Linked DNA regions of Homo sapiens. The protein of the gene in region 1 interacts with the protein of each later gene in a pairwise test. Each region holds a gene or a part of one and is shown in the gene's direction. Other genes may lie near its edges. The genes, in order: VOPP1, GLYAT, OFD1, SMPD3, MAP7D1, MTF2 and STMN2.

Region 1 (3,500 bases):
AAGAGCACGGGAACCCCAAGGCTACAGCCGTGCTTATTTCCATCTCTCTTCAGCTGGGGAGAGAACATCACTTCTTCCTGAAAATTCTCCCACCCCTTGCTGCCCTGGCTCCTGGTGCACCACCTCCTGCCGCATCTTCCCATTGCCTATGCATCCTTCTCATCAGCCTTAGACACTTCATGCTCCTCTCCTGGCCTCAGTGCTGCTCCTTCCTGCAGCCTTCTCCTGGACATGCCCATGTTTCCACCACCACCTTCCCACAGGAGGCTCCAGCTCCAGAGCTGCCTCCGCCCTCTCCAGTCCAGCAGGGACTTTTTCATCTGCCCCGCCCTTGTCCTGGTGCTGCTGTAGCAGTAGTGTGACCTTGGTAAGGCGCTAATTCTTGCAGAGCCCCTGTTCTCCTGTATTGCCCTGCCTGTTGGGGGGCCCTTATTGTGAGCAGAACCTAGGGCCTTTTCTTCTCAGCCCTTGTCTCCCACGCTGTGCGCTCCCCATCGAGTCAATCCCAGGCCAGTCATTGCCGACAGCCCTCAGTGCCTCATTCTCTCTTCTCCATTTTTTCTCTAATATTCAGAAGCCTTCATAATGTCTTGCTTAGACTGTTGCAATGCCCTCTTTTTAAAAATCCTTGGTTTTTTAATTGTATAACATATAGCAGGATCCAGATCTAAATAAAACATAATCTCTGCCCTTGCGAAACTCATGGTAATGGCAGTAAGTCGACTTCTAAATAGAACACACCCAAGGCAGCGGGTGAGATGCATCAGAGCAGCGCAGGTGGCATCTGTGGGACCACACGGCATCTCACTCAGGTGGTGTCTGTGGGACGGCACAGATGCAGGGCGAGGCAGCCTCTCACACAGGGTGGCATCTGTGCTGAGTGCCCTCCTGGCAGTTGAGAGCGCTCAGTGAGAGACAGTGCAGGCCTGGCCTGTGCTTCTGTTCTACATGCTCTCCTTCCGCACATGCGCAGATTCCCATGGTCTGACTTATGTGGGCTTTGGGACATCTTGTGTACCTTGATGGGCATGTTTCTAGAGTCAGAACTATATCACACTGTGTCAGGGGGAGAATTGCAAAAAAAGAAAAAAAACCCTACACAATATTCACACAGGGGCAGCTTCTTTGACACTTGAGTGTCTCCCTGAGCTAAAGGAAGCCTCACTTCAAAAACACCTGAGTCCTGTCACAAAATCAGCTATACCCAGGGAACACCCAGCACTTTCACGGTTTTGTCTGATTCTTTATTTACATATGCATAATTCTATAGTGTTAATCTGCATGATCACAGTAAGCACACTGAAAACAGCACCTCAGAGTGAGGGCTAGATTTGGGGTCGGGTGTCCAGCCTGTACCCTCCTGTCACCTTCTGTGGTGCCCCCGTGCCCTGCTCCTCAGCTTGTCACTAGGGAGTCAGCCTGCGGCTCCGCTCCTGACCCATGGAGCGTCAATCAGCTGCAGCCTGGCTATGTGTGCCCAGGTGCACGGCCTCCCTGCCTGTGAGTAACTCCTGCCCTGAGGGCACACTAGCCCGGCAGGGAGAATGGAGACCTTACTTCAGAAATGGTCACCAGCCAATGGCGTGCCCAGAGGGGTTGTGGAGCTCCTGCGATAATGCCAGGCTGAGTCGCGAAGCCTGGGTGGTCTTTGCAGCTCTTCCGATAGTTCACCGCAGACAGCCTCACCTTACTGTGGCCCAGTTTCCTCCACCCTAATGTGTGAACTGGTAACGTGGAATGTAGTCCAGTAGAATCAAAGCCCCGAGAGGGCAGGGACCTGCCTATTGTGTTGCTTGTCACCACAGCCCAGGTGCCCCCTCACCGGGCATGTTGGGTCCTTCATACACTGTCGCTGAGTGAATGACGGGGCGTGGTCTGCTGGCCCTGCAGCCTGCACATACTTGCGGTGTGATGGGGCTTTCCCTTCTGTGCTCACCTATGTTTGTCTGTCTTTCAGGAGCCCAGCAGCCGGGGCCGCCCTATTACACCGACCCAGGAGGACCGGGGATGAACCCTGTCGGGAATTCCATGGCAATGGCTTTCCAGGTCCCACCCAACTCACCCCAGGGGAGTGTGGCCTGCCCGCCCCCTCCAGCCTACTGCAACACGCCTCCGCCCCCGTACGAACAGGTAGTGAAGGCCAAGTAGTGGGGTGCCCACGTGCAAGAGGAGAGACAGGAGAGGGCCTTTCCCTGGCCTTTCTGTCTTCGTTGATGTTCACTTCCAGGAACGGTCTCGTGGGCTGCTAAGGGCAGTTCCTCTGATATCCTCACAGCAAGCACAGCTCTCTTTCAGGCTTTCCATGGAGTACAATATATGAACTCACACTTTGTCTCCTCTGTTGCTTCTGTTTCTGACGCAGTCTGTGCTCTCACATGGTAGTGTGGTGACAGTCCCCGAGGGCTGACGTCCTTACGGTGGCGTGACCAGATCTACAGGAGAGAGACTGAGAGGAAGAAGGCAGTGCTGGAGGTGCAGGTGGCATGTAGAGGGGCCAGGCCGAGCATCCCAGGCAAGCATCCTTCTGCCCGGGTATTAATAGGAAGCCCCATGCCGGGCGGCTCAGCCGATGAAGCAGCAGCCGACTGAGCTGAGCCCAGCAGGTCATCTGCTCCAGCCTGTCCTCTCGTCAGCCTTCCTCTTCCAGAAGCTGTTGGAGAGACATTCAGGAGAGAGCAAGCCCCTTGTCATGTTTCTGTCTCTGTTCATATCCTAAAGATAGACTTCTCCTGCACCGCCAGGGAAGGGTAGCACGTGCAGCTCTCACCGCAGGATGGGGCCTAGAATCAGGCTTGCCTTGGAGGCCTGACAGTGATCTGACATCCACTAAGCAAATTTATTTAAATTCATGGGAAATCACTTCCTGCCCCAAACTGAGACATTGCATTTTGTGAGCTCTTGGTCTGATTTGGAGAAAGGACTGTTACCCATTTTTTTGGTGTGTTTATGGAAGTGCATGTAGAGCGTCCTGCCCTTTGAAATCAGACTGGGTGTGTGTCTTCCCTGGACATCACTGCCTCTCCAGGGCATTCTCAGGCCCGGGGGTCTCCTTCCCTCAGGCAGCTCCAGTGGTGGGTTCTGAAGGGTGCTTTCAAAACGGGGCACATCTGGCTGGGAAGTCACATGGACTCTTCCAGGGAGAGAGACCAGCTGAGGCGTCTCTCTCTGAGGTTGTGTTGGGTCTAAGCGGGTGTGTGCTGGGCTCCAAGGAGGAGGAGCTTGCTGGGAAAAGACAGGAGAAGTACTGACTCAACTGCACTGACCATGTTGTCATAATTAGAATAAAGAAGAAGTGGTCGGAAATGCACATTCCTGGATAGGAATCACAGCTCACCCCAGGATCTCACAGGTAGTCTCCTGAGTAGTTGACGGCTAGCGGGGAGCTAGTTCCGCCGCATAGTTATAGTGTTGATGTGTGAACGCTGACCTGTCCTGTGTGCTAAGAGCTATGCAGCTTAGCTGAGGCGCCTAGATTACTAGATGTGCTGTATCACGGGGAA
Region 2 (3,344 bases), on another chromosome or scaffold:
AAACTTGGTTCCAGTGCAGATACTGCTGTTAATAACACAATCATAACTGAATCCATCCCTAAGCATGTTTTTGCTTAGGTAAAACAGAAAAAATTACACAAATCCTTACTGTTTGAAATGCTTCTTCCCCAGTGCTGTAAAGAAATAGCACTTGAACATAAATTTAATTTCCTCAGTAAGGCCATTTTTACTTTCTGCAGAAAGGGTACACTCACCAGCAATTTTGCCATGAGAACTGAACAGAGGAGACAGGGTTATGTATAACCTGACATGTCCACCCTACTGTTGTGTCTGGTTTCCATTGGCTGGAACAGGGCCTCACATTCTGCATTTGTCCCAACTGGCTAGCAACTTAAAACCTTTTAAAAGAGATAAAGGCAGAGGAGAACAAAGGAAGGGGCAAGTAACTTGTGGAATGCTGAGAAAGGTAAAACATCTCCAAGTAAGGAAGAGGAACAGGCTATGGCCTAATGCTTGCTTGGACCAGTATAAGTATGCCAGGGTAAATATTTAGGCTAAACTGTGGGAGCTAAGAACACAAAGTACATTGATTTCTTTATTATCTTCTAGCAGTTATCTAAGAATGCTAGCACAGGTCTTTGAATAAATTTTGCTTCTAGAGGAAGTTACTATTGATTCTTAATTAGATGGGGAGGGAAGTCTTTTTGAAGAGGAATCTTCACTTTTTAAATTACTATTGACATGGGTCACACAGTGGTAGCACCAAGCCCAGAACCAAGATTTTATGATACTAAATCCCAGACACTTCTTACTCCACTGCAGAACTTCAGTCTAGAATATACCTAAACCATTTCATCTCTGTTTATTATACCGTCTAGGTTCACAGCCTAGCCTGAATGAGGCTATACAAAATCTTGCAGCCATTAAGTCCTTCAAAGTCAAACAAACACAACGCATTCTCTATATGGCAGCTGAAACAGCCAAGGAACTGACTCCTTTCCTGCTGAAATCAAAGATTTTATCTCCCAATGGTGGCAAACCCAAGGCCATGTGAGTTTGATAAAATCCAGTCTATACCACTCACACCTCTCAAGTAACCTCCCAACTTCTCTCCCTGCATTCACTCTGGCTTTCCTACAATCAATGTTGTACAAAGAAATCAGAATTACATTTTTAAAAAATGTAACTCAGAACATGTTTCTCTCCTGCTTAAAAGACTCCACCATCTCCCTTCTCATCTAGAATAAACCAGGCCTCTGGCTACCACTTGGACCTTTATTGCCCTTCCTGCTTTCTTCCTCCAACAGCTCTGACCTTCACTCTGTTCCTCTTTCATCACAAGCTCATCTATATTCCAGGACTTCACATTTGTTATTTCTTCTGTCTACTCTGTCTCTCAAGACAATAGAGGTCACAGCAAATACAAACCTTTATACTAATGGATTTTGTTTTCTTCTTGGACCCTCCATAGCAACCAAGAGATGTTTAAACTCTCATCCATGGATGTTACCCATGCTCACTTGGTGAATAAATTCTGGCATTTTGGTGGTAATGAGAGGAGCCAGAGATTCATTGAGCGCTGCATTCAGACCTTTCCCACCTGCTGTCTCCTGGGGCCTGAGGGGACCCCTGTGTGCTGGGATCTAATGGACCAGACTGGAGAGATGAGAATGGCAGGCACCTTGCCGGAATACCGGCTCCATGGCCTTGTGACGTATGTCATCTATTCCCACGCCCAGAAATTGGGCAAACTTGGGTTTCCTGTCTATTCTCATGTAGACTACAGCAATGAAGCTATGCAAAAAATGAGTTACACACTGCAACATGTTCCCATTCCCAGAAGCTGGAACCAGTGGAACTGTGTACCTCTGTGATGCCAATCCTGAACATAAGACAGTGTTGGGCAGGTCTGGGCGTATAATTTGAGGAGTGGATGGTGGATGAAAAGAAATAATAAATTGTAATCAGCAGTAAAGGAGTGGGCACTGTTTGGACTCTGGGGAAGCAGTGTGATGTTCAACAGCATCGCCATGGTCCCTGCATTCACAGGTTTCTCAGTGGGAAGCAGGCCCAGGTCCTCTTACATTTGACATAAGCAATTTACCTCCCCACATTTCCAGGACCTCTATGACACTTCATCAGATACATATTGCTCCAAATTACTTCTCCTGGAATCCCTGGTTCCTCAGTTGCAAGACCCTTGCCAGTTTTTCTGGGAGCTAGGAAGAGGTGAATTAAATTTTCTGAGCACTATGACTTCTTTCTTTCTAAAGCCTTTCCCTTATGATCAACAAGTGGACTCTCCTCAGCAGGTCTTTAGAGATTATCCTCTCCTGTTATTGCTACTTTATAGGTACATTAAATATACTGGACACAAATATATATGGGATATTAGGCTAAATACAGTATACATGATATAGCAGGGAATGTTACTAGAAGAAATATCAACTGATGATATCCTATCCTCTCCAAGCTCCTATTCCAGGAAAAAAGATCCAATGTTTTTTCTAAAGATGAGCTTCCAAAACCCACAACTCCTAAATAATACAGAAAGTTTTGTGTTTGACTGTATACAATTTTTATTGTGTTTGTTCAAGCTAAGTGGTTCATCATGGTGACAGCATGAAAGGAATGAGTGTATGAAAAGGTGAAGGTGGGAGCACCTTGACCCAGGGATGTGATGGTTTATTGAGGAGAGATAGGAGTTGAAGGGAGAGGAGACAGCATGAACACCTGCTTGTCCAATTAGCCTCAGCACATTACTAATCTCAGTTTGTTCCTGCTGTAACAAAATACCTGAGACTGGGTAATTCATAAATAACAGTCTGAACTTATTTGTTTATTTAAAATAATAATAAAATAATTAAAAATTTATTTATCACAGTTCTGGAGGCTGGAAGTCTAAAATCATGGTGCCAGCAGATTTGGTGTCTGTGAGAATCCAGTCCCTGCTTCCAAGGTGGTGCATTATTGCTGTGTTATTTGTAGGGGATGAACACTGTGTCCTCACATGGCAGAAAGACAGAAGAGCAAAAAGGAGCCCAGCTAATTTCCTCCAGTCCTTTTTCCTTCAGGCACAAATCCCATCCATAAGGGTGGACGTTCTTGTGGCCTAATTATCTCTTAAAGACTATCTCTTAATACTGTTACATTGAGGATTAAGTTTCAACATGAATTTTGGAGGAAACACAAACATTCCAATTATAGCATTACTTCAGAATGCCTGAACTCTATTAAAAGTTTAGATAATTGTCTCAAACAAGAGTCAGTTGAGGGGGAACAAGAGAGATAATCTTTCAGGTTGCAACAGGTTAGGACAGCTTTCTATTTTTTTTTTCTTTTTTTGAGACAGAGTTTCGTGCTGTCACCCAGTCTGGAGTGCA
Region 3 (4,021 bases), on another chromosome or scaffold:
TCTCCACCTCCTATGAAGTCCTGTCACTCTTACTGCCTCTTAAATACTTTAAGTTTTTCACAGCCAGAGATCAAAACTCATCGTACTCATCTTCAATGCTGTACACAAAGCTGACATCCAATTCTGTCCTCACAGGACTTAGATACCATATAAGGCTTATATTCCCAGCACACAACTCTGGAGTCAGGCTAGATTCCTCACTGCTCCCAAGAAGGTCGTGGCTTTTTTTTTTCTTTTAATGATTCCTTTGCTCATTTTTCCCCTTCCTGTGATGTTCTCCTTTTTGCTCACCACCCGAATCCTACCCATCAAGGCCCCGATAAAGACACACTTTTTCCACAGAGATGATCTGGATCACTTCCATCTTCAACCACCTCCCCTTTAAACTCTTTATCCAGTCTACAATGTATCTTAGTTCTTGTTCAATTCTCTGGCTGTAACATTTTCATTATCGCTTCTGAGAGGTTTGGTTCCTTTCCTTTCTAATTACATTTAAGCATCATGAGGACTGGCTCACCTTTACCTCACAGCACACAATGGTTGGTACTCTAAAACGTTTAGCTCTGTGGATCTCAACCCGGAGCGATCTTGCTTCCAAGAGGACATCTGGCAATATCTGGAGACATCTTTGGTTGTCACACTTGGGGGAGAAGGTGATACTGACAAAATAGAGAGCAAGGATACAGCTAAACCTACAATGCACAGGACAGCCTCCCAAAACAAAGAATCTTCCGGCTCCAAAAGGCAACAGTGCAGCCGTTAAGAAACCCTGGGTTAGCTGAATGACCCAGTGAACCGCGAAACCACAGCCCCCGAGAGGGCGGACGTCTGCAGGTGGAAGGGCTGCGCGGATGAGCCAGCGGAGGGCTGGCAGGTCCGGCCCGGCCACCCCGGGGAGGGGTGGAGGTACAGGACCAACATCCGCGTCACGCAGGGGCTACGAAGTCCTCCAGGGACTCAAAACACCCGCCCCCCGCCGCACTTGCTCCATTCCCTACCTGCAGTGGGAGGCCGACAACGGAAACGCAATGTCAGTTTCCGCGGAAGAGACCCGCGCCCCGAACCTGTAGCCAGAACGCCGAAGCAGTTCTCGCGATACCCTGGGATGTGCTCTCGCGATACGTAGGCGGAGCTTCCGGCCGGTGCTGGGCAACCAAGCTCATGCGCCGTAGCTCTTCAGCTCGGGAAGGCTATATTTAGCAGGTTTCCGGAAGTTGCCGGACTGGCTGTGAGGCGGTCCTGCCTCGCTGCCTTCAGTCCCTAGTGTCTGGGTCCCCGCCCTCCAGCCGCCTTTGAGTCGTGCCTGGGTCCTCGCCCTTGCCTCAGAACCGCGAAGAAAGGAAGCTCGCGTGTTTGCTAGAAAACCTAGTTGGGAGTGCGAGGCAGAGAACGTTCAGCACCTTTGTTCCTCCCGAACCCTCGGGACAGAGGCAGGGTTCTGAGGGCAGGGATTCCCCCTCGTCTTGGCCCCACCGCCCGGGCTGGGCACTAAACTCGGGCCGCGGCGGGGCGAGCGAGGCGGGCTCCGGAGGGAGCTGACGCCTGATGATGGCGCAGGTAGACACACCTGCCCCTTCTCGGGCGGAAATAAAGTCTTGTTTTGTGTTCGTTAAACTTTCGCCGCTAGGCCTCTTATGGCTTCCCCGGAGGCCACTGGTCTGTTTTCAGACGTTCACGTTCCCTCTGCCCCGCAGGTAACCTATAACCATTTTGTCTTTTAGTCCAACATGTTTACCGTGGCTGATGTGTTGAGTCAAGATGAACTGCGCAAAAAGCTATACCAGACGTTTAAGGATCGGGGTATACTGGATACACTCAAGGTATCGGATTTAGGCGTATCTGTGTCAGCTTTTACAAGTGTAACCTGTAACAGGTAGTTCAAATTCAATCAAGGTTTAGGTTTTAATAATCGTATGATACATAGATTGTATTGGTGAATTACATTTTTATATTCCCGAATAACTCTGTATCCTGAAACATTACAGTCTCTTGAAAATGTTTGAGAAAATGTTGAGTTTGAGTCGTCTTAAAGGAGCATATTCAAATAATTAATTGAACTGACAATAAGATAGGAGAAGGAAATATTTGTATAATGAACACAGTAAGATTAGGCTTGTTTTATAAATATGGCTTATAGGTTCCTAAATTAATAAGTGGGTTTGTAATACATTTGGATGAAGGACATTGACACCATATAGAAAATACTAGTGTACTGCTTAATAATAGTTTGGGAAATGAAAAATTTTATCTTTAAACTATATTGAAATGTATGAATGTTTAGTTTGGGCAGAAAATACCTATTAGTATGCTTTATATTTGGATTAACAGCCAGGAGTAGGATTAGCTCAACGTGTTTTCATTGAAATATGCATTTCAAAAGCATATTTTACGTTTAAAATATGTAGCTATATCCTGTGTATGTATCCTTTTTTAATTTAAATTATATGGTGAGCATTTCCCTGTTTCCTTAAAAGTTTTTTGAAATCTTCATTTTCAGTGGCAACAGGCTTATCTTTGGATATTTTTGTAATGTATATAGCAGTCCCCTGTTGTTGAATATTTTGGTTATATTCTCCAACAGTCCACAGAGGTGTGATGAAGTGGCAGAATTTTTTCCTATACTTAATATCCCAATCGTAAGCTGCTGAAATGGGCTTCTAGGGAAGTGAAGTTATGAGTCTGCAAGTGGATCTGGCTAACCACCCGTTTCATTTGGAAGCTGGGGAAAGAAAGCTTTTTCTAGAACCCACTGGACTGCTTGTCTCACGGGGTAAGACAAAGTGTGCAGGGGAAGGTTTCTAACTTCTGGCCATGGATCTAGAACCATTATGGAAATAGAAGGAAGGTTTCCAATGAATGTAGCTCATCTGTGTATATCTCTAATGAAACAGTCCTGCTGAAATTTCTTTCCCTTGTGTTTCTTTTTTATTTTTGTTTTTATTTTATGCTAGACACAACTTCGAAACCAGCTAATTCATGAGTTGATGCACCCTGTATTGAGTGGAGAACTGCAGCCTCGGTCCATTTCAGTAGAAGGGAGCTCCCTCTTAATAGGCGCCTCTAACTCTTTAGTGGCAGATCACTTACAAAGATGTGGCTATGAATATTCACTTTCTGTTTTCTTTCCAGAAAGTGGTTTGGCAAAAGAAAAGGTAAAGTCTTTCCTTTTCTGTTTCTGAAGTTTTTATTAACAGGTTCTTCCTCTGCTGACAGTAAAGTGCTGTATGATAGCTAAGTGCTCCTCGACTAGGTCCATTTCTGTTTCCTCTTTGAATTCACATTGTACCTGCACATAATATATTTGTTATATAACAAGTGGGTACTAAATTTGAAATTAATTTCTTGGCGTCTCATTTAGTCTCACATAAAACAGTGATGTATAGAATCTCTAAATGTTTCAGACCTATAATTGATCTATCTATCCTCTATCTTGTCTAATAAGACTCTGCCAATCTGCTGAATGTCTGCTGTAAGCTTGGCACTGTGATAGGCACACTGCAGATGTTTTGTGTGTTACGGATGAGGAACCAGACTCTGGAGAGGTGAATCAATTTGCCCAACATCAAGTAACTTTTAAGTGACAATGCAGGGTGGTAAATCTAGATCTCTAACATGAGCTCTTTTTTTCCTGCACTAGTTTCTTCAGATGTTTCTCTTTGTAATTAGATAAGTGAGAAATACGTAATTTAAAAAATCTGTAAAGTTCTCAAATATTAAAAACACTTGTTTTTTTTTTTTACTACTTTTCTAATTATTTTAACTATATTTCTTCACCATTACTGTTGAACATTAGTACTACTTTATTATTTTAAAGGCAGATACAGCAGACTTTCCCTGTGGATATGTGCGTGTTTTTTTTTTTTTAATAGACTTTATTTTTTCAGAGCAGTTTTGGGTTCACAGCAAAGTTAAGTGGGAAGTACAGAGAATTCCCATATACCTGCTGCCCCTACACACTCATAGCCTCCCCCACTGTCAACATCTTGCATCAAGGTGGTACATTTGCTACAATCTATAAGCC
Region 4 (3,500 bases), on another chromosome or scaffold:
CTGCACTGCCCTCTTCACGCCCATCTACCTGGCCCTCCTGGTGGCCTCGCTGCCCTTTGCGTTTCTCGGCTTTCTCTTCTGGTCCCCACTGCAGTCGGCCCGCCGGCCCTACATCTATTCACGGCTGGAAGACAAGGGCCTGGCCGGTGGGGCAGCCCTGCTCAGTGAATGGAAGGGCACGGGGCCTGGCAAAAGCTTCTGCTTTGCCACTGCCAACGTCTGCCTCCTGCCCGACTCACTCGCCAGGGTCAACAACCTTTTTAACACCCAAGCGCGGGCCAAGGAGATCGGGCAGAGAATCCGCAATGGGGCCGCCCGGCCCCAGATCAAAATTTACATCGACTCCCCCACCAATACCTCCATCAGCGCCGCTAGCTTCAGCAGCCTGGTGTCACCACAGGGCGGCGATGGGGTGGCCCGGGCCGTCCCCGGGAGCATTAAGAGGACAGCCTCTGTGGAGTACAAGGGTGACGGTGGGCGGCACCCCGGTGACGAGGCTGCCAACGGCCCAGCCTCTGGGGACCCTGTCGACAGCAGCAGCCCGGAGGATGCCTGCATCGTGCGCATCGGTGGCGAGGAGGGCGGCCGGCCACCTGAAGCTGACGACCCTGTGCCTGGGGGCCAGGCCAGGAACGGAGCTGGCGGGGGCCCAAGGGGCCAGACGCCCAACCATAATCAGCAGGACGGGGATTCAGGGAGCCTGGGCAGCCCCTCGGCCTCCCGGGAGTCCCTGGTGAAGGGGCGAGCTGGGCCAGACACCAGTGCCAGCGGGGAGCCAGGTGCCAACAGCAAGCTCCTGTACAAGGCCTCGGTGGTGAAGAAGGCGGCTGCACGCAGGAGGCGGCACCCCGACGAGGCCTTCGACCATGAGGTCTCCGCCTTCTTCCCCGCCAACCTGGACTTCCTGTGCCTGCAGGAGGTGTTTGACAAGCGAGCAGCCACCAAATTGAAAGAGCAGCTGCACGGCTACTTCGAGTACATCCTGTACGACGTCGGGGTCTACGGCTGCCAGGGCTGCTGCAGCTTCAAGTGTCTCAACAGCGGCCTCCTCTTTGCCAGCCGCTACCCCATCATGGACGTGGCCTATCACTGTTACCCCAACAAGTGTAACGACGATGCCCTGGCCTCTAAGGGAGCTCTGTTTCTCAAGGTAGGAGACCTCGGCCCAGCCTGAGGACCACGTGCCAGCTGGTCCTAGAGCCATGTAGGCAGGGGGGCTGCAGCGGGGAGTCCTCATCGTCATGGGGGCTGGAGTGGGAGGTTGGAGTGGGAGGCAGACGCGGTCTTTCCTGGAGCCAAACAGCAGGGCCCTGGCTCGGGGACAGGGTCAAGACCAATGCAGGGATGAGCACCGAGGCTCTGGGCTCAGACAGACCCATCTGGGTGATCTGGGCCCGTTCCTCAGATCTCTGAGCCACCATTTCCCCAACTGTAAAGTGGAGAGAGGGTGGGAGTGGAACAGAGCAGTAAGGCCTGGGAAGGGTTCCGAGCTGGCGCAAGAGTGGCGGTGGTAGCCGTGGAGATGGTGGCAGTGATAAAGTGAGGAAGAACAGGAGGTAGGGGCCCTGTCGGTTCATAACGAGGCAGAGAGACCAGCCCAGACCAAGCGCATCAGGCAAGCAGACGGGACCCTCAGGTCTCCAGGCCGTGACACCGCCTGGCTCACTGAGGCCACTAGCTTCCCTGGCCTGGACACCCCTCCCTCCTGGCTGTCGTGCAGCTGCCCTGCCAGGCTGTCTGCCCACCAGCCATGGTTTCGCTTCCATAGTCACTAATTAAAGTGAATCATAATTATTTCTGCTAATTTGGATTCGATTGGAGGAGTTTTTAGGCTGTGGTAATTTGGTCATTACACATTATCTTCTACTGCGCCTGAGATGCTCAGAGTGTCGACTTTTGTTCTCTATCCAAAAGCCGCTCATGGTGCTTCCACGGTTTTCTGAAGTGTCATTTGGCCAGTGGATGCAGCACAGGGCTTTCTGCCCTGAGAGGCAGCAGCTGTTTCAGATGTGGGTTCTGTCCCTTTAGGGTGAGACATGAAAAAGTGGTGGCTTTGCAGGGAGGGCTGCGGTTCAGAGGCCTGCCTAGGGCAGGTTTCCTCACTTCCCAGTTCGCCTTCAGAAGCAACCACACTCCGCCTGCCCAGGGAAACACTGGTGCGCAACCTGGCGCCTGCCATGAGTGGCAGAGCTTGTCTTCAAGCCCTATGGGAGCCAGGGCAGGCAGCAAGGGCCCTGGCCCCCACTTCTGGTTCGTCCATGGCTCTTGTGTGGCTCTGCCAGGCCCAGAGTTTGGGTCCTCTGCTCTTCATTCACAGCAAGGGATGCTGAAATTGAAGCAACTCCTGACAGATAGATCCAACCTTCCCATTTTGGCATATGGTCCGTTGGTGTTCTGTTCCCTGGATATATTTTTGTCTCGACAGCTAGAGTGACTTTCTGGGGAGGAAGGGGATGTGTTGCCAGGTCCAGGGTGGGAGGATGTGCCCCTTACTCCCACCCCTCACTCCCACCCTACTACAGGTGGCTCAGAGGCCGGGCCCTCCCCCGCCCCCTACCCCAGCCCACTTCTGCACAGATCAATCCACACATCCTGTCCCCACCTCCCTCCTCTGTGGGGCACCCTCACTGTTCCCACTGAGCTCAACAGTGTCTGCCTGGGACAGCCCCTCCTCCCAGGTTCTGTCCTGAAAGTTCTTTTCATCTTCCTCTACCTCCTGGGTCTCAAACTGTAACCTGATCTATGACATTCAAAAATTTTTTGTATTGACCAATTTTTTTTTTTTTTTTTTGAGACGGAGTTTCACTCTTGTTGTCCAGGCTGGAGTGCAGTGGCACGATCTCGGCTCACCACAACCTCTGCCTCCCGGGTTCAAGCAATTCTCCTGCCATGGCCTCCCAAGTAGCTGGGATTACAGACATGCACCACCACGCCTGGCTAATTTTTTATTTTTAGTAGAGACGGAGTTTCACCGTGTTGGTCAGGGTGATCTCAAACTCCCGACCTCAGGTGATCTGCCCACCTCGGCCTCCCAAAGTGCTGGAATTACAGGCGTGAGCCACCATACCCAGCCTTGACCAATATGTTAAAATCAAGATATTTCACAGAAAACCCGGTTTGCAGGTTCTCTCAGCAGCCCCAGGCCTGCCACATTCCGTACCCCACGCGGCTGCAGTGAGCTGGAGCCGTGGTTGGCTGCCCCGCAGTGGGGTTTCCCAGCAACCATCATGACACCTGCCTGGGAGTGAGACTCTGCAGCTTCCATTTCTGCCCTTTCTGAGGCCCCTCTGCTTTGTCCTGGCCCAGACCTCTCCCCCCAGCCCTACATCTGGCTGCCTCCAGGACACATCCCCATTCACTCGCAAACCAGACTCAGCCTCTGCCCCGGGCTGCTCCTCTTCTGTGTTCTGCCATCCTGAAGCCAGAAGGACCACCTTGGCTGCTCTGTCCTGTGCCCGACCCATCCATTCCAGGCCCCTAGCTCACTTTCCAGATGGCCC
Region 5 (3,500 bases), on another chromosome or scaffold:
CTTCAGTAAATTAGTTTGGGCCTGGAAACTGGCTGGGGACATGCAGGTTCTGAGATGAACATGACATTTAGTGTTTAGAGAGACTAAGCTTTGGAGCAGCTTGAGGGTCTAAATACACACTAGCTAGGTAGCTTTCTACAGTACCCCCACCCACATATCTACATACCCAGCCACCCACCCACCCATCGGACATTCATTAAACAGACACAGAACTCCCACTCTGTGCCAGGCAGGTCCTGTATAAGACTCTGGGGCTGCAAAAAGGACTAAGACTGAGTTTCTTCTCTTGATAAGCTCTCACACTGACAAGGGCAGGGGGTGGCAGGCAAACAGAAAAGCTAGACTGAGTTATCAGTGTTGTGAGAGGAATATTTGGCCCAACAAGAGTTGTTGGGGTGGGAGGAGGGAGAGACAAAAGGAAAGGACTGCCAGCTCTCAGAGGGTGGAGATGGGGTGTTAGTATTCTGAGACATGTGACAGTCTCTCTGAGGGACTTGGCCCTGATCTTTCTGCAGACCCCAGGCACAGCCCCTCTTGGAGCTCTTAGGAAGACAGGACTTTTTGACCCCACAATGCAACCCACCACTGCACTTTTGCCCTGCTAATGCTCTTTGTGCCAAGAAATAAATACAAATTATTTGTCTCTTATCTCATTCTTAACAAATACTTCTGGTAGATATTAGTGTAGCAAAATAAAACCAACAGTGGCAAAACCTCACAATCTGGCATAGACCAAAAATAAGATAAAATTAAGTAGCCGAAGGATCATATTTGATGGTTAAAAATGAGAATGATCATAAATAGATTAACCATACTGTATAGATAACTAACCAAGGAGTTTTGGCTTAATGTGATTTGCTCCATAACACTGTGCCAATGACATTTCATCAGGGTTGGCATAATTGTGAAGAAAATATTTGTATTCAGGGTCAATAGTGTGCCAGGTCACAAGAGGAGTTCCAAACTTCTTGTTTGCCTCTTGAGAAGTTTTTCTTGTTGAGCTGCTGGAGTAAACACTCATTATTATTTTTATTAACTTCTACCTGTGTGGCTTAGTCCAGGAAGCTGCCCAAACACTATTGAGATGGAGTTGTTTTGCTTCTCTTCAAATGTTTATCTTTTTGCTATAAGTTGCCACATAGATATATACTTTTTTTCTTTTTTTTTTTTTTTTTTTTTTTTTTTGGAGACAGCATCTGATTCTGTCGCCCAGGCTGGAGTGCAGTAGTGCAGTCTCAGATCACTGCAGCTTCCACCTCTGGGTTCAAGGGATTCTTCTCTCAGCCTCCCAAGTAGCTGGGACTACAGGTGTGCACAACCACGCCCAGCTAATTTTTGTAGTTTTAGTAGACATGGGGTTTTGCCATTTGCCCAGGCTGCTCCCGAACTCCTGGGCTCAAACGATCTGCTCTCCTTGGCCTCCCAAAGTGCTGGGATTACAGGCGTGAGCCACTGCGCCCAGCCTAGATCTACTCTTTATTAGAGTAAAAATCTTCTATATGCTTTAGGCTAGGGCAGCCTCATAGTATAGCACTTTATTTGTGTTATACTGTTTATTCAAATATTTTATGACTATCTCCGTATACTTGGCACTGTGGTAGCTGCTGGTGATGCAGCAGTGAGCAAAGTAGACATGGCCAGCTCTTGTGGGGCTCCCTCACCTTCTAGGAGGAGGCTGACAATAAGGAAAGAACCATGCAAGGAAGTTTAAAATCATAACAGTGACAGTGTTCCAAAGGCACATGAAACCATGACTATATACAACAAGGGAATTTATCCTAATCAGAGAAGCCAAGGAAGGCTTCCATGAGGAAGTGATGACTGAACTAACATATGTAGGGCAAATAGGAGTTAGCTAAGAAAAGAGAGTATGTGCAAAGGCCCTGTGGCAGGAGGGAGTGTGGATGGTCATCAGCATTAAAGGAAGGTCAGTGTGGCTGGAGTTCAGAGAGCAAGCGGGGAGCAGGGTAGGAGAGGAGATCCAAGAAGTAGGGGGAGGGAGTCAGGAACTTCAGATTATACTATTATACTGGACTAGTAGGGTGAGTTCAAGAAGGGGAAGCCACTGACAAGTTTCAAGTGGCAAAGAGCACCGTGATCAGATTTGCATTTGCTCTGGCTGCTCAGTGGAGCAGAGAGTGGGAATGGGTACAGGCGAGCAGTGAGAGGACTTTGTAGTCATCCAGGTGAGAGCGATGATGGTGATGATGATATCTGCCTGGGTGTAGTTCATTCATTTCTTCATTCAACAAATAGTTATGGAGCACCTATGTGCCAGGCTCTGTTGGCCCTAGAGATAGACCAGCTAACAAAATAGGCAAAAATTTGTGCCCTCATAGAGATTATATTCTAGCAGTGGGAGACTTAAAATGGTGTTAATGCCTATGGAGAAAAAGAAGACTTGGAAAGAAAAATCTAGTTGGAACTGGGAGGGAGACTTCAACTGCAGTTTGTAGTTTTATTTAATTTTTTTTCTTTTTCTGAGACAGCATCTTACTCTGTTGCCCAAGCTGGTATACAGTGGTATAATCATCGCTCACTGTAGCCTCAAACTCCTGGGCTCAAGGTATCCTCCTGCCTTAGCATCCTAACTAGCTGAGACTACAGGTGTGCACCACCATGCCCAGCTGTTTTTTATTTTTTAGTTGAGATAGGGTCTGGCTGTGTTGCCCAGGCTGTTCTCAAGCTCCTGGCCTCAAGTGATCCTCCCACCTCAGTCTCCCAAATTGCTGGGATTACAGGTGTGAGCCACCTTGCCTGGCCTTTATTTAATTTTATTTAAAATTTTTCTTTTTTTTCTTTTTCTTTTTTTTTTTTTTTAGAGACAGGGTTTTGCTTTGTCACCCAGGCTGGAGTACAGCAGCATGCTCATAGTTCACTGTAACCTCAGTCTCTATTTCAGCATGTCATGATGCCTGGGTAATTTAAAAAAATTTTTTTAGAGATGGAATCTCACTATGTTGTCCAGGCTGATCTCAAACTCCTGGCCTTAAGGGATCCTCCTGTCTGGGTCTCCCAAAGTGTTGGGATTACAGGCATAAGCCACCGCACCACGCCTGCAGTTTGTAGCTTTTTTTTTTTTTTTTTTGGAGACGGAGTCTCACTCTGTCATCCAGGCTGGAGTGCAGTGGCACGATCTTGGCTCACCGCATCCTCTGCCTCCTGGGTTCAAGTGATTCACCAGCCTCAGCCTCCCGAGTAGCTGGGATTACAGGCACATGCTACCACACCCAGCTAATTTTTGTGTTTTTTAGTAGACGGGATTTCGCCATTGTGGCCAGGCTGGTCTCGAACTCCTGACCTCAGGTGATCCACCTGCCTTGGCCTCCCAAGGTGCTGGGATTACAGGCGTGAGCCACCGCTCCCAGCCCAGTTTGTAGTTTTAAATAGGGGCTAAGGGAAGGCTCCATTTAAAAGTGACATCAAAATAAAGACCTGAAGGAGGGGAGGGAACGAGGCACGCAGAATCTGGGGGCAGAGAATTCAAGGCAGAGAAACAG
Region 6 (3,500 bases), on another chromosome or scaffold:
GTATATTAAAGTGTATTGAATGCTAGTGAGAGGTAGATTAAAATGAAAGAAAAATATTTATTGCATAAGGTATCATTTTGTTATTAGTGACCTTGATAAAAGGAATTTCTTTGAAGTGGTACAGATAGAAACCAGATAGGACTGGGTGAAAGTATGACTGAACCCAGCATTGCCAAATTTACGTGTCAAACTGGGCTTCTCCTGCGTATCAGGGACACAGGCAGATTCAAAATAATAACAGTAGTAAAGGAAAGGAGGAAAATAGGAAACTATCTTTAAGGATCCTGAATGAGAGGGGAGAAAATGGAAAGGGTATATGTCATCAACACCTAGAAGCTTTCCTATGTAGGGAGGCCGACAAATGGAATGGCAGCTGAAGAGGGGGATAGGACTAGTCAAATGATGGTTTTTTAAAATAGATGGGAGATAGTTGGAACCTGTTTTTGTGTGTAAGTAGGAATGATCCAGTGGAGAAGAGGAAATTGGTATAGGAGAGTAGAAGCCAAAAGAGAAGGGATGTAGAGCCTGAATGTGGGACTGGCCTTTTCTAGAAGGAGAAGCATCCTTCTGTTGAAATGGGGTGAAAGAGAAGATGGGTACAGATGCCAGTTCTGTTGTAGATTGGGCAGTTGGAAATTGACCGAAGTTCTTGCCTGGTAGCCTCCATTTTCTCGATGAAATATAAGGTAAAGATAGCTGAGAGACTTGTACAGAGAGGGGAATTTAAGGGTCAATTAAGGGTATGGAATAGTCATCTTGGAGATAAGGAAATTGACTGAAGTTCTTGCCTGGTAGCCTCCATTTTCTCGATGAAATATAAGGTAAAGATAGCTGAGAGGCTTGTACAGAGAGGGGAATTTAAGGGTCAGTTAAAGGTATGGAATAGTCATCTTGGAGATAAGGAAAATGTCATTACAAAGCCTTGACAATGAGTCCAGTTATATGAAGTTTGTAAGAAATTAGCTACTAATTAAGTTTTCTTTGAATGAAGGAAAGAATGCTTATTCTATCACTTTCAGATTTTGTCACTCAGATCCTTTGCTAGCAGTTGCCCATATTATGAATCAGAAAAAAAAATTCCACAAGCTTTTTCATTTCTATCATGATTGTGATAGGATATTCCCTTTGTGGTAGCTATCAGGTCATCTGATGCCACCAGATAAGGATTCAGCTGCTTTCTTTAAAGGCATCCTCAGTTCCTTCTGGACCTTGTGTATAAGTTGTTCCTTTTAGTTTGAGATTACTTTCTTTAGTCCAGGAGTCCTTTATAAATATTATGTTGATCATTTTACAAAAGAAATGGATATCCCATCCATCTTATTCTTGAGACTTTTGATTATAGCGTCTGGTTCTACTTTGTCCTTCTAGTTCCCCTACTTTCTCCTTCCTCATACTTCCACCTTTATTCCCTGACCTTTTTTGGCATCTGGAGGGATAAGTTTTTTTCCTACTTTCTCCATTCATCTCTTTCTAGGCTATTGTATAGTGTTCTTTTTTCTCTCCTTAATTGAAGTCTCCTGGACAATTTCCTCATAGCCCTCACTCCATTTTATTAGCTTGGCTTGTATACACATTTGTCACTTTCTAACTATATTGTGAACTCTTTAGCACAGGGAACACCTTTGTATCCATATTATCTAATATCATCTTTATATGGTAGCTATTGCTGAGTAAATGAAATAGATATTCTTTCTATATATATATTTTCTTTTTTTCTATAATTAGTGTCTTTGCCTATTGCACTTTTTTCCTTCCTATTGCTTGGTATTTGGCTTTATGTTTAAAAAATGGTTTTCTAGGTCTTTCTGATTTTTCCTTTTGAATGACTCCCTGAGAATATGAAGGATTTCTTACTCCTTTCTCCTTTACATTCTGCCACTCTGGGCTTCATTCTCTTTCTGATAGTGTCATTCAAGAATCTACATATATATCTAAAGGCAGCCTTTATGACTACTACAATGTTAACATAGATATTTCCTGACTCCATGAAGTTAACTGCTAAATTCATAGTCATTTTTAGTAGTAAATCCTTGAAACATCCTCCAAGTTGTAACCACCTAAAATTAAACTATATAATTGAGCTTTTAGGAGTTTTGAAATCTTCCATCCAGTATAATTGTCTGGTTTTTGTTGTTGTTTTTAAATCTTTAAGTGGTATATATTGTTCAGAATTATATTAAAGAGGACTTTCTTTAAACCTTTCATAATGTAAATATCTTTAAAGTCAAGAAATATTTATTTGGATTAGAATATATTATCTGTGCACTTGACTAAACTTGTGGATTCAACTAATATTTACTTTTTATTACCATTAATATAAAATAATAAAATATATGTATATGTGTCTAGTTACATACATAGAGTCAATGTCTTTGTTTTCTTTATGCAGAGATTAAATGCATAATGGTTTTCCATTTCAGGGAAGTAAGCAATGGCATAGAAAAAAAAGGAAAGAAAAAATCTGTAGGTCGTCCACCTGGCCCATATACAAGAAAAATGATTCAAAAAACTGCTGAGCCACTTTTGGTAAGAGGATATGTTGGTATATGTTCTCAAGAAGAAGGATGCATGAAATAACTGAGAAGCTAGTATTTTTTTCAGCTTACTTTAGAGACATGCTTTAAGTATATATTTTTATTTTCCAGGATAAGGAATCAATTTCAGAGAATCCTACTTTGGATTTACCTTGTTCTATAGGGTAAATAGAAAGTTATTTTCTCCCTTTCTAGGTTTTGTCTTTTGAGTAGATATTAATATTTGTTTGTTATATAATATAGTCGTTACACAATTTAAATTCTTTTGTCTCAGGAGAACTGAGGGAACTGCACATTCATCCAATACCTCAGATGTGGATTTCACGGGTGCTTCCAGTGCAAAAGAAACTACCTCGTCTAGCATTTCCAGGCATTATGGGTAGATATTTTACATTCTTATTTTTTTTACTTTTTTTACTCTAGATTTCTTTTCTTTGTAAAGTGTTGATTGAATAATTTTTTAGCAATTGAAAGTGATGTAAGTTGTGTCTATCAGCTTTTTGAGAGGTAATCCATATGTAGATCCCAATAGTTGTTAATATTCATTTGAAATATTTTTGCTTTCTAGAGTACAAATGTATTTTTCATGTTTGTGTGGAAATTTGCTGTGTACACAGAGAAAAAGTATACCATTGTTTAGAAGCTGTGCTCGTTAGGCTTTTTAATGCCTCTGCTACACAAGTGTTCTTTGCTTTAGGAAGATATGATTTTTTTTTTTCTTTTTAAGAGACAGATTCTCACTCTGTTGCCCAGGCTAGAGTGCGGTGGCACAATCATGGCTCATTGCAGCCTCAAACTCCTGGCTTCAAACAATCCTCCCATGTCGGCCTCTCTAGTGGCTGGGACTACAGATTGTGCCACCACACCTAAGTAATGCTTTTTTATTTTTTGTAGAGATGGTTTTGCTAATTTGCCCAGGCTGGTCTTGAACTCCCGATCTCAAGTGATCCTCCTGTGTTGGCCTTC
Region 7 (3,500 bases), on another chromosome or scaffold:
CTTGTCACAAGTGTCTTAAATTTTGCTTTTGATAATAATGATTACCACTCATTCAGTACTAACTTACTTGATATTAGACACTGCATTAAATACCTTGCAAACATTATTTTGTTTGATCCTGACAACCATATGAGATAGGTACTATTCTTATCCATTACCAAAAAAATTAATTTCATGAAGACTTTTCCCAGAGAGAGAAACTTTAAATATTTACACACACACCTCTCTCCCTGTAACAATTCCGTAGTCCTGATAACAGCAAATAAGCAAAGTCTGTGTAGGATGCTTTACCAACAGTCCCACCTAGAGGCAGGAGAGTGAACCAGCTAGAAAATATTTTATTCATATTTCTTCCAGAAAGGCTCCATTGGAGTTTGAACTCAATTTATGTTATAATTTTCTTATTATTTTTGTATTGGTTTTCCTGAAACCAATACAAAGTAAGAAAGCATTGGTTCCACTAAAAATGTCCTAAAACCAGCCAAGCACAGTGGCTCACACCTATAATCCCAGTACTTTGGGAGGCCGAGGCGGGTGGATCACTTAAGCCAGGAGTTCAAGACTAGCCTGGCCAACATGACGAAACCCCATCTCTACTAAAAATACAAAAATTAGCAGGGTGTGGTAGCACACACCTGTAATCTCAGCTACTCAGGAAGCTGAGACATGAGAATCGCTTGAACCTCAGAGGCAGAGATTACAGTGAGCAGAGATCACGCCACTGTACTTCTGCCTGGGTGACAGAGCGAGACTCTATCTAAAAAAAAATAAACACATAAATAGTAAAATGTCCTGAAACCATTATGGGGTTAAAGCAAGAGGCAGGGCTGGTTCCCAGGATTTTCTGTCTAATCTCCAGTGAGCCACAGACCTATTCCTGATCAACTTGAGAATAAACACATCAGTAAAGATGTGTAAGGCTGTCTGACTTTCCCATTTCTGTAGAATTTTATTTGAAGAGAAGTTTCTCCTTTCTCCAGGCCCCATATTGTTTATACAAAAAGACCTTTCCAGTAAATGTCCACAACCACTACCATCAACTAAAATGTTTTCCCACTAATGCTTTCAATGGTAATCAGTATTTAACAGGGCACTTAGGATTATTTTTTGATCAACCATTGTTTAGATATTCCCACTTATAATTACTCCTGTGAAGGATTGCCTCGGGGCATCAGCTGATCCTGAGAAATTATCCAGAAGCCATGAGTGTGTAATAATTTAGTCTTAAACCTAAATAGGTCAGTATTGGGTGGGACTTTTCTCAGCTGCATAATGGGGAGAATAAAAAGAATATGGAAAGAAGTTACGTAACACATCCTGGGTCACAAACAGAGGTAAGACTTGAACACAGGCCTGACATCAAAGCCCATGCCAGTATGACTTACAAAAGGTAGACTGGACTACCTGCATTTGAGTCACTAGTGATGCTTATCACTGGGCCTCACCAAAGAACCTTGGAATCAGAATCTTTGGAGGTAGATGCCAGGCACCTGCATTGTTATCAAGTGCTCCAGTGATTACCATTCACTGTACAGAGCCAAACAGACTCCTGATGCTGGAAGAAAATTACAGTGCTCAAAGTGCAGGGCAGGGTGTACATCTGGATCTAAATCACTGAGCAACCACAGGGTTTCAAGAGAGGGTCAAAACAAGGACTTTCTGCTCTCTGTGGCCAAGGGGACACTAAGTTTGCACTGTTCTCAGATCTCCAAAGAGACTTTGGTGTATGGGGGATAGGGAGGGGGGAAGGGGGTGTGAAATAAAAGGAGAAAGTGAATTTGATTATTTGATTGATGAAAATTGAAAAGCTTATTGTAGGGCCTAGCCTACAGTTGATGAAAAAACAATGGATCAGGAAGAAGATCAGAACTTGTCTCAGTCCTCAACTGTTTTCCTCAGGCTTTGGTTGAATATTGCCATCCTGTAATTCATTATAGCATTTTCTGTTGCATAAACGCTTAGCAACAAAGCCTTTTTTTAAAAAAATTTGTAACTCCTCAATGAGGATTAAATGCTTCTTCTTCTAAGACAGTCCGAAATATACTCACAGCTGAAAATTCAGCTAACCGCATTTCCCAACTAGCCACATTCTATAGAAAACTCTAAGCCATGCAGATGAGTACAGACTTGACAATAGTGCTCAAGGCTGGGAGTACTATTCATCTGAAAAGAATGCTCCCTCCAATTGGTGGGCCGTTATTCTGCTAGGTTTGTGTTTGGATAATTATAAGATGGCTATGTTTTTCTTCCCCAGTCTCAGGAGGCCCAGGTGCTGAAACAATTGGCAGAGAAGAGGGAACACGAGCGAGAAGTCCTTCAGAAGGCTTTGGAGGAGAACAACAACTTCAGCAAGATGGCGGAGGAAAAGCTGATCCTGAAAATGGAACAAATTAAGGAAAACCGTGAGGCTAATCTAGCTGCTATTATTGAACGTCTGCAGGAAAAGGTAATCTCAGCAGAGTCCTGAGCAGATGGATATATTCATATGCAGCACAGCTGGGTGAACTTCCATATGCCTGAGCACAGAGACGAAGTCAAAATTTGCTGCAGGTGTGAGGACAACTAACTCCCATGGGCAGGGTCTCACAGTGTAGCATTGAGTTAGCAGGAGGTGCAACATGGTAGAGAAATGGGAATCCATCATGAAAGCTGGAATTTTGTCAAATTTTCCCATGGTGAGTGGATTCAGGGAGGCTGATTCATGCTTTTGAAATGTGTAAGACTTCTATACAAGCCTCACGAGGCAATCTGTAGGAAAAATGTTACACTGGAAATATTAATGTCTATATATTATATTGATATAAGTATAAATAACATTTGATTTAATATTTGTTTAATATATGACATTAAATATATATTTAATTAAAATATTAAATTAGAAAAATATATTTGCCAGAAAAGGCCAGGGTATTTATGAACACTGGTAAGCCCATTCTAGGGTATAATAGCATCACATGGGACCATAGCAAAGATTAGCTCATAGGGGATGTTTCATCCAGTTCTGGTATCCTGGTGCCCTTCTCTTCAACAACCTAAACATATATTCATTCCCATGAGTCAGGAGGAGCTGTGCTGGAGTTCTTCTGAAAAATGCTGTCTTTCACTTTTGTACTCTCTATGCTGTCTCCCACCTATCCCCTCAAAAAACCTTTCCTTTGAAAATATACAGTATAGCTGTGAGTAGTTTAGCTGTGTCCGTTTCCAGAAATTGGAATAAGCATTGAGAAATGGGATGTTTGAGAAAGACGCCTCAATCCTTTTCTGAGCAGTCAGTCACCCTTCCCGCCAGTAGCAAGTGCCTTTGTGTGATAGGCATTGGAGATGCAGAGCAAAACAGGAGTGTGCCTGTCATCAGAGCCCTGAGAGTTTAATTAGATGAGCCTCCTGTTTTCTATTTCTCAGAGTTTCATGTCTTCTGTTAGAGATGGCCCTTCTCATCTAAGGTTCAAAAAACCTTATCCTGAAGTTCTGATGATTCTGTTTTCATTCTCAGTCTCTGA

What was found.
Region 2: the proteins of VOPP1 (region 1) and GLYAT interact in a two-hybrid assay, tested with the Homo sapiens proteins (one large-scale study listed by IntAct).
Region 3: the proteins of VOPP1 (region 1) and OFD1 interact in a two-hybrid assay, tested with the Homo sapiens proteins (one large-scale study listed by IntAct).
Region 4: the proteins of VOPP1 (region 1) and SMPD3 interact in a two-hybrid assay, tested with the Homo sapiens proteins (one large-scale study listed by IntAct).
Region 5: the proteins of VOPP1 (region 1) and MAP7D1 interact in a two-hybrid assay, tested with the Homo sapiens proteins (one large-scale study listed by IntAct).
Region 6: the proteins of VOPP1 (region 1) and MTF2 interact in a two-hybrid assay, tested with the Homo sapiens proteins (one large-scale study listed by IntAct).
Region 7: the proteins of VOPP1 (region 1) and STMN2 interact in a two-hybrid assay, tested with the Homo sapiens proteins (one large-scale study listed by IntAct).

The regions. Positions count from the first base shown.
Region 1 is NC_000007.14:55,471,503-55,475,002, reverse strand, and holds part of VOPP1 (WW domain binding protein VOPP1 isoform 1 precursor), read left to right. Parts: intron 1-1,957; coding exon 1,958-2,148; coding exon of another isoform or gene 2,149-2,249; 3' UTR 2,250-3,500. UniProt on the Homo sapiens protein: Increases the transcriptional activity of NFKB1 by facilitating its nuclear translocation, DNA-binding and associated apoptotic response, when overexpressed. May sequester WWOX in lysosomal vesicles and thereby regulate WWOX role as tumor suppressor.
Region 2 is NC_000011.10:58,708,257-58,711,600, reverse strand, and holds the end of GLYAT (glycine N-acyltransferase), read left to right. Parts: intron 1-839; coding exon 840-1,011; coding exon of another isoform or gene 1,012-1,015; exon of another isoform or gene 1,016-1,432; coding exon 1,433-1,835; 3' UTR 1,836-2,844; downstream 2,845-3,344. UniProt on the Homo sapiens protein: Mitochondrial acyltransferase which transfers an acyl group to the N-terminus of glycine and glutamine, although much less efficiently.
Region 3 is NC_000023.11:13,733,527-13,737,547, forward strand, and holds the start of OFD1 (centriole and centriolar satellite protein OFD1), read left to right. Parts: upstream 1-1,221; 5' UTR 1,222-1,545; coding exon 1,546-1,557; intron 1,558-1,721; coding exon 1,722-1,820; intron 1,821-2,951; coding exon 2,952-3,152; intron 3,153-4,021. Other genes in the region: TRAPPC2 (trafficking protein particle complex subunit 2), read right to left, coding at 524-606. UniProt on the Homo sapiens protein: Component of the centrioles controlling mother and daughter centrioles length. Recruits to the centriole IFT88 and centriole distal appendage-specific proteins including CEP164. Involved in the biogenesis of the cilium, a centriole-associated function.
Region 4 is NC_000016.10:68,368,509-68,372,008, reverse strand, and holds part of SMPD3 (sphingomyelin phosphodiesterase 3), read left to right. Parts: coding exon 1-1,150; intron 1,151-3,500. UniProt on the Homo sapiens protein: Catalyzes the hydrolysis of sphingomyelin to form ceramide and phosphocholine. Ceramide mediates numerous cellular functions, such as apoptosis and growth arrest, and is capable of regulating these 2 cellular events independently.
Region 5 is NC_000001.11:36,162,660-36,166,159, forward strand, and holds part of MAP7D1 (MAP7 domain-containing protein 1), read left to right. Parts: intron 1-3,500. UniProt on the Homo sapiens protein: Microtubule-stabilizing protein involved in the control of cell motility and neurite outgrowth. Facilitate microtubule stabilization through the maintenance of acetylated stable microtubules.
Region 6 is NC_000001.11:93,131,283-93,134,782, forward strand, and holds part of MTF2 (metal-response element-binding transcription factor 2), read left to right. Parts: intron 1-2,420; coding exon 2,421-2,526; intron 2,527-2,645; coding exon 2,646-2,698; intron 2,699-2,808; coding exon 2,809-2,913; intron 2,914-3,500. UniProt on the Homo sapiens protein: Polycomb group (PcG) protein that specifically binds histone H3 trimethylated at 'Lys-36' (H3K36me3) and recruits the PRC2 complex, thus enhancing PRC2 H3K27me3 methylation activity.
Region 7 is NC_000008.11:79,652,617-79,656,116, forward strand, and holds part of STMN2 (stathmin-2), read left to right. Parts: intron 1-2,254; coding exon 2,255-2,446; intron 2,447-3,500. UniProt on the Homo sapiens protein: Regulator of microtubule stability. When phosphorylated by MAPK8, stabilizes microtubules and consequently controls neurite length in cortical neurons.